Linked DNA regions of Homo sapiens. The protein of the gene in region 1 interacts with the protein of each later gene in a biochemical or structural test. Each region holds a gene or a part of one and is shown on either strand. Other genes may lie near its edges.

Region 1 (3,428 bases):
TCTTCACCTCGTGATCTACCTGCCTTGGCCTCCCAAAGTGCTGGGATTACAGGCGTAAGCCACAGTGCCAGGCCTGTTTTGTTGTTGTTGTTGTTGTTGTTTTGAGAAGGGTCTCATTCTGTTGCTCAGGCTAAAGTGCAGTGGTGCAATCTTGGCTCACTGCAACCTTCACCTCCTGGGTTCAAGTGATTTGTCTGCCTCAGCCTCCAAGTAGCTGGGACTACAGGTGTGCACCACCACACTCGGCTAATTTTTGTATTTTTAGTAGAAACAGGGTTTTACCACGTTGGCCAGGCTGGTCTCAAACTCCTGGACTGAAGCAGTCCACCTGCCTCAGCCTCCCAAAGTGCTGAGATTACAGGCATGAGCCACTTTCAGTCCCTACAGACTATGTATGTGAGACAAGAAATAACGTTCTATCCTGTTGAAGCCCCTGTTATTTTGGGTTTTGCTGTAAATGCAGTTAAATGTGATCATAGGTGGGATGCAGTGGCTCATGCCTGTAATCCCAGCACTTTGGGAGGCTGAGGCAAGCAGATCACCTGAGGTCAGGAGTTCAGGACCAGCCTGGCCAATGTGGTAAAACACCGTCTCTACTAAAAAATACAAAAATTAGCCAGGTGTGGTGGTGTATGCCTTTAGTCCCAGCTACTTGGGAGCCTGAAGCAGGAGAATCGCTTGAACTCAGGAGGCAGAAGTTGCAGTGAGCTGAGATCATGCCACTGCACTGCAGTCTGGGCGACAGAGCGAGACTCCATCTCCAAAAAAAAAAAAAAAGAAAGAAGAAATAGATCAAATTTTAAAACACCACTGAGCTAAGTATGTACTGGGCCTTTTCAAAGGAGTCCCTGAGGCTCTGAGAGGTAGAACAACTTAATGAAGTTCACATAGCAAGGAAATGGCCCAGAAGAGATCAGAACTTCCATTCTGTCTCCAAAGCCCTCATTCTTTCTACTCTATGTTGCTGGCTAAGTGCTGAGTGACTCGCCTTGTGGCTGCTCTTGGAGGGCGTGAAGAGGCCAGAAAAGCAGGGCTGCCACTTACCCTCTGCCCACCCAGGGGACAGGGGCTTATGTGTAGCTGGGACCCACCTGAGCCGTGGTTGGGCAGGAAGTGGTCCAGGATGGCCGGCTTTTTCTTCCGCCGTTTGCTCTCGATGCCATGGGGGTCTGAGGGAAGGCAGAGATGAGGACCCCTGTTCCCCGACAGCCCTTCCTCCCCAGCCTGGGGTGGGACAGGGCAGTGGGGTCAGCTGTCCCCTCCCCAGAACCTGGGGATGGGGGTGGAAAGGGGCAGAGGGCACACACCAGAGCTGTTCAGCTCCCCAAGGACGTCGGGCATCCCCCGTTTCCGCTTCTTGTCCACGCCGTAGCTGTCTGTTAAGGAGATACCAGGGACACACAAGAAGTAATTCATCAATAATAATTAATTCCTTTATTTATTTATTTATTTATTTATTTTTAGAGACAGTCTTGCTCTGTTGACCAGGCTGGAGTGCAGTGGCACGGTCTTGGCTCACTGCAACCTCTGCCTGCCAGGTTCAAGTGATTCTCCTGCCTCAGCTTCCCAAGTAGGAGGGATTACAGGTGTGCGCCACCACGCCCAGCTAATTTTTGTATTTTTTTAGTAGAGATGGGATTTCACTATATGTTGGCCAGTCTGGTCTTGAACTCCTGACCTCAAGTGATCTGCCTGCCTTGGCCTCCCGAAGTGTTGGGATTACAGGTGTGAGCTGCTGTGCCAGGCCTATTTTTTTTTTTTTTAAAGATGGAGTCTTGGCTGGGCGTGGTGGCTCACTCCTGCAATCCCAGCACTTTGGGAGGCTGAAGTGGGCGGATCACCTGAGGTCAGGAGTCCGAGACCAGCCTGACCAACACGGCGAAACCCGGTCTCTACTAAAAATACTAAAATTAGCCGGGCATGGTGGCGGGTGCCTGTAGTGAGTCTTGCTCTGTTGCCCAGGCTGGAGTGCAATGGCACAATCTTGGCTCACTGCAACCTCTGCCTCCCGGGTTCAAGCAATTCTCCTGCCTCAGCCTCCCGAGTAGCTGGGACTATAGGCGCCCACCACCACGCCCGGCTAATTTTTGTATTTTTAGTAGAGACGGGGTTTCGCCATGTTGTTCAGGCTGGTCTCGAACTCCTAACCTCAGGTGATCCGCCTGCCTCAGCCTCCCACAGTGCTGTGATTACAGGCATGAGCCACTGCGCCCGGCCTACACACTGGCCTCTTTGTTGTTCCTGGAGCACCCCAGGCACAATCCGGCCTCAGGACCTTTGCACCTGCTGTTCCAGCTGTTTAAAGCACTCTTCCTCCACTCTCACTATTTCCCTAGAAAACTTCCCTGCTTAGTCATCCTCCTGTCCTCAGCTCAGCTGTCCCCTCCTCCAAGAAGCATTCCCTGACACCTACAGCTGGGTCAGGTACCCCCTCTGGGCAATGTGAGCCCTTGAGCACTTCATTCCAGTCCTGCCCACTCTGGTCATCACTCTGTAGGGACAGGCTGTCCCCTATCCTCAGGACTATAAGCCTCATGAGGACACAGCTAGGGGCCGTGCTGGTCACTGCTGTGTCTCTAGCAATACCGAGCACAGGCCCGGGCATGTGCAGGATGCTGAGGGGAGGAAAGATTAAATACTCTCCAAATGTCACAGGACAGCTACTATTATTTCCATTTTGCACAGAAGAATGAGGCTCAGAGAGGCCAAGGTCACACAACCAGTAAGCAGCAGAGCCAGGATCTGAACACTGTCTTTGTAGCTCTGAGCCTGCATTCTAGTTCTGCCTCTTTCCCATCCCCACTGGGGTCTCCCCAAGGCCAAAGACCTAGTCTCCGAGGTGGTGGGTCACCCTGGGTTGCTGTAGTTACCATGGTCGCGAGGCAGGTACGTGAAAGGCAATGGCTCGCTGCAGACCCCATCGGTGAGCCGCTGCAGGAAGACGTTGACTGTCACGGGCTCGACAATCTCCAGGTCCTCGTAGGGCGGCGTCTTGAACACAATGGCAATCTGGCGGTGCACGTCGGCCTGGGAGAAGTCAGCCCGACCTTCCCAGGAGGCCCTGCTGAACACCACTGATATGTCCTCTGGCAGGAAACGGGGGACATCAGCTAAGCCAGGACATCTGGACCACTGTGCTCCCAACTTGCCCAGCCTCCCCTAAAATCAAGACTAATATTCCCCCTTTTTAAAATTTTTTTTTTTTGAGAGTCTTGCTCTGTTGCCCAGGCTGGAGTGCAATGGCGCGATCTCAGCTCACTGCAACCTCTGCCTCCCGGGTTCAAGCAATTCTCCTGCCTCAGCCTCCGGAATAGCTGGGATTACAGGCATATGCCACCACGCCCGGCTAATTTTATTTTTGGTTTTTTTTTGTTTGTGTGTTTTTGAGATGGAGTCTCACTCTGCCTCCAGGCTGAAGTGCAGTGGCA
Region 2 (3,814 bases), on another chromosome or scaffold:
CAGAGCCCCTAGAGACCCCTAGAGTCTCACCCTAGCTCCTCCCCAGTCCGGATGTCTCGGGAACTGAAGAAGGCGATGCGTGGAAATCGCAGGTCTTGGTGCAGCATGAAGACCCGGACGGGAATGATGTTGGGGTCACACAGGTGGTTGATGAAGCGGCTGATGTTGCCATAGTAACGGGCATCTATGCAGTACACCTCTCCATCCTGGGGCAGGGGGATGGCACTCTTCACATCTCCCCCGACCCTGCTTGCCCTCCCCACCCACTGACTCCCCAGTCCCTCCTCCCCAGGTTTCCATTTGCTGACTTCCCAGAGGCTCCTGAAAGCCAGCCCTGGGGAGCAGCAGGGTAAGGAGGGTCTCCTGCTCACCTTGTTGTCTAAGTCGAAGAGGTAAGAATCATCCTCTCTCACATCAGCCTCAGCATCAGAGATCAGCTCCCCGACATACCTGTGGGACAGGAATCCATGGTTCTGAAGGTGAGTGTGGGCTATTAGGAGGTGGCTCCAGGCCCCATCTCTCTTCACAAGCCTGTGGAATCTGGAATGGGCAGGGCTGGCAGGTGTGGGGAAGGGAAGGCCTGGAGCAGCAGTGGTGGGCAAGTGAAAGGGCAGCATTCCAGCCTTGACAGAGGAAGCCTTCAGTCAGCACAGAGACAGACAACAAGCTCTGTGGTTAAGGGGATTAATGTGTAGGGGCAGTTGGCCTGGGTGGGGAAGTTCGGGTTTGGACACAGAGAGGTTTGTGTTCCAGGAGCCACCCGGCAGGAATGGGCGATATGGAACAGGAGAGGGGCCAGGACTGCAGGAAGAGCCAGAGGTACAGGAGTGGCAAGGAACTCAAGGCATGATTCGGGGCAAGAGCACCCACACATATCTGGACACCAGAGGGAGGAGAGGAGCCAGCTATCTAAGGAGGGTGAGCAGACATGGGAGATTCAGACACACGGAGAGGACGTGGGTGGGAAGTGACTGTCAAGAGACAGCTTCAGCAGAGTGGGAAGGGCAAAGGCCGATTTTGGCAGGGACAGGCAGTGAGTGGATGGTGGGGAAACTGAGGCCCAGCAGGAAGGGGCTGCTTGCCAGAGAAGTTGAGAGATGACATGATGGAAAGAAACTGGATGGTCTGTTGAACAGGCAAGTATGGTTAGAGGACTATCTTTTTTAAAGGCCAAAGAATGGTCAGGCACGGTGGCTCACGCCTGTAATCCCAGCACTTTGGGAGGCCGAGGTGGGCGGATCATCTGAGGTCAGGAGTTGGAGACCAGCCTGGCTAACATGGTGAAACTCCGTTTCTACTAAAAATACAAAAAATTAGCCGGGTGTGGTGGTGCGCACCTGTAATCCCAGCTACTTGGGAGGCTGAGGCAGGAGAATCGCTTGAACCTGGGAGGTGGAGACTGCAGTGAGCCAAGATTGTGCCATTGCACTCCAGCTTGGGCAACAAGAGTGAAACTCCGTCTCAAAAAATAAATTAAAAAAAAAAAAAAAAAAGAGCCAAAGGAGACTAAAGTAAGATTGAGGGTTGTGGGATGGCAGCCAAGAGAAAGGGGGAGATTACAGATGCTGGGCAGAGAAAGAACTGATGGAGAGGGACAGGCCCCTGAGGAGGTGGACAGATAGGTAGCTGTTATCACCTCCACTCTACAGACAAGAAAAATAAGGCTCAAAGAGGTTAAGTAACTTGGCCAAGAACATCCAGAAGCAGAGAGGGGCTCAAACCCAAGTCTGTTTGTCTCCCAAACTGGCACTTTCTCCAGCTAGGAAGGGCGAGGAGGGGGTGGAGGGGAAGGTAGAGGGTGGAGGTGGAGGGGAGGGAAGACAAGCTCTGTGGTCTGGGCAGAGTGGAGGCAGGTGCCATTCTCAGCTGGGGGGATGGGGGTCAGAGGCGGCTGGCTGCTCAGCTGCAGGAATAGGGGTCAGAGGAGGCTGGCTGGAGAGTGGCCAGATGGAGACATGTGACTCATCAGGGCAGATGGCTGAGAGGGAGGCCTGGCAGTCAGCAGTGGCCATGTATCCCCTTCCCACCAGGTGTTAAGGTGCTCCCGGTGACTTACTCGCAGATGAAGGTCCCCTGTGGGATGGTCTGCAGGGCGCGGACCCCCCAGCCCATCTTGGCTGTTCGGTAGAGCTGTAGCCGCACCCTGGGGGTAGGAGAGATGGCGCTGTTGGGTGGAGGCCCTGGAAAAGCCCCAGGGGCAGGGAGGAAAGGGTGAGGTGGGGAGAGGGTGGGCTGTGGAGCAGGGCCTCACTTGATGCCACTCTGTACGACCCGGTTCTTGCAGTTTCTCCAGCATGAGCACGCCTGGTTACACTCGAAAATCAGCGGAGGCTCAATCTTGTTAAATTCCTGGAGCAATCGCCCATCCTAGGGTGCGGAGGGGAGGATAGTGGTTTCTCTGTGGGGCCCACCTCAGCTGCCCACCCAGGAACCCCAAGACTCTACAGAGACAGGGAAGTTGGGGTTGGGGAGGTCACACAGGCTCTGAGATCCGAGAGCACGAAATGCAGGAGCATCATCCCTGGTTTGCATAGACCTGGGCACACGCCCATCGCTGTCCCAGCCACATCCCAGGATTCCCAGGCCTTGCCCAGTCCTCTCAGTCACTTCCCCCACAGGGTAGGAGGTGAGGGACATGGTCCCAGGGAGCTGGTTTATTGGAGGCTGGCTCCTCTGAAGGAGGGGCCGGGTGTCTGTGGCCAAGGCAAGGGGCACGCACCTTGTCATACCAGCACCGGATGCTGAGCTGGCCGCACAGGCAGTTGGAGCTAGAGCAGTCGTCCACACACGTGCAGTGCTGGGGCGAGGAGGCAGAGGTCAGCTCAACCCCATGATCGGTCTGGGCCCCTCTACTCTTGATGCCCCCTGACCCCCTAACCACTGTCCTTTCTTTGGGGTCCATGTGTTACAACAGTGGGTGGTGATGGTCCTAGGGTGACGGGTAATCAGTATGGTGGTGTCCCCAGGGCTACTGGGAGCTCATATGATACCTTGCTGTGACCTAGGAAAAGGATCCCTCCCCTGGTGGGGATGCGACCCCACACCAGGGCTCCCTTTCAGCCAACCCTTCCTTGGCCAGGTGCCTTTGCTGGTTTGAAGCTTGTCCAACTGTACTTGGCAGCTCTCGGTGTCCTTTTGGGGAGGCCCCGGGCCCCCTACTCACCTGCAGGTGGGTGATGTTGCGATCGATGTTCATGGTGGACGTCTCGCAGTTCTCTGAGATGTACTTGTAATCCTCAGGGCAGGGCTCCCCATCCACACCGTTGACACAGGGAATGGGCACGTTCTCATAGCCCCGAGCCACGTCCCTGCAGAAGACGGGAAGAAGGGGCTGGGAAGCTGGAAAAGGGGGTGAGGAGCTACTCCAGGTATAAGGAAGAGAGTTGGGGAGGTTCCTGGGGCTGGGGGCAGGGGAGTAAGGTTGCCAGGTAAGATGCAGGACAGCGAGTTAACATAGAATTTTAGATAAACAAGAAATAGCTTTTTAGTATGTCCCAAAAATTACACAGGACATTCTCACACTAAAAAAGTATGCATCTGTGCATCTGAAATTCCAGTTTAACTGGGTGTCTTCTATTTTTATTTGCTGTATCTGGCAACCCTAGTGGGGAGGGGGCCTGTGGGTGGTTCTGGGGATTCAGTGGTGCATGGGGAGGGGTTGGGGAATGTTGTGAGGATGCAATGGAGCCTGGGGAGGGTATGGGTGGGGAGGAGGTGGTCTTGGGTGCAGAGAGGGGCCCAGGGCTCACCGGCAGATGATCTTCTCTGTGCGGATGGCCCGATTTCCCACCCCAAGTCGGAGCTTGCGGTTGAG

What was found.
Region 2: the proteins of RELB (region 1) and EHMT2 form a complex in vitro, tested with the Homo sapiens proteins (one study listed by BioGRID).

Annotation. Positions count from the first base shown.
Region 1 is NC_000019.10:45,032,192-45,035,619, reverse strand, and holds part of RELB (transcription factor RelB), read right to left. Parts: intron 3,087-3,428; coding exon 2,871-3,086; intron 1,377-2,870; coding exon 1,308-1,376; intron 1,170-1,307; coding exon 1,092-1,169; intron 1-1,091.
Region 2 is NC_000006.12:31,880,643-31,884,456, forward strand, and holds part of EHMT2 (histone-lysine N-methyltransferase EHMT2), read right to left. Parts: coding exon 3,750-3,814; intron 3,563-3,749; exon of another isoform or gene 3,309-3,562; coding exon 3,164-3,308; exon of another isoform or gene 2,798-3,163; coding exon 2,720-2,797; exon of another isoform or gene 2,368-2,719; coding exon 2,252-2,367; exon of another isoform or gene 2,144-2,251; coding exon 2,057-2,143; exon of another isoform or gene 2,031-2,056; intron 919-2,030; exon of another isoform or gene 754-918; intron 480-753; exon of another isoform or gene 451-479; coding exon 372-450; intron 207-371; coding exon 31-206; exon of another isoform or gene 1-30. UniProt on the Homo sapiens protein: Histone methyltransferase that specifically mono- and dimethylates 'Lys-9' of histone H3 (H3K9me1 and H3K9me2, respectively) in euchromatin.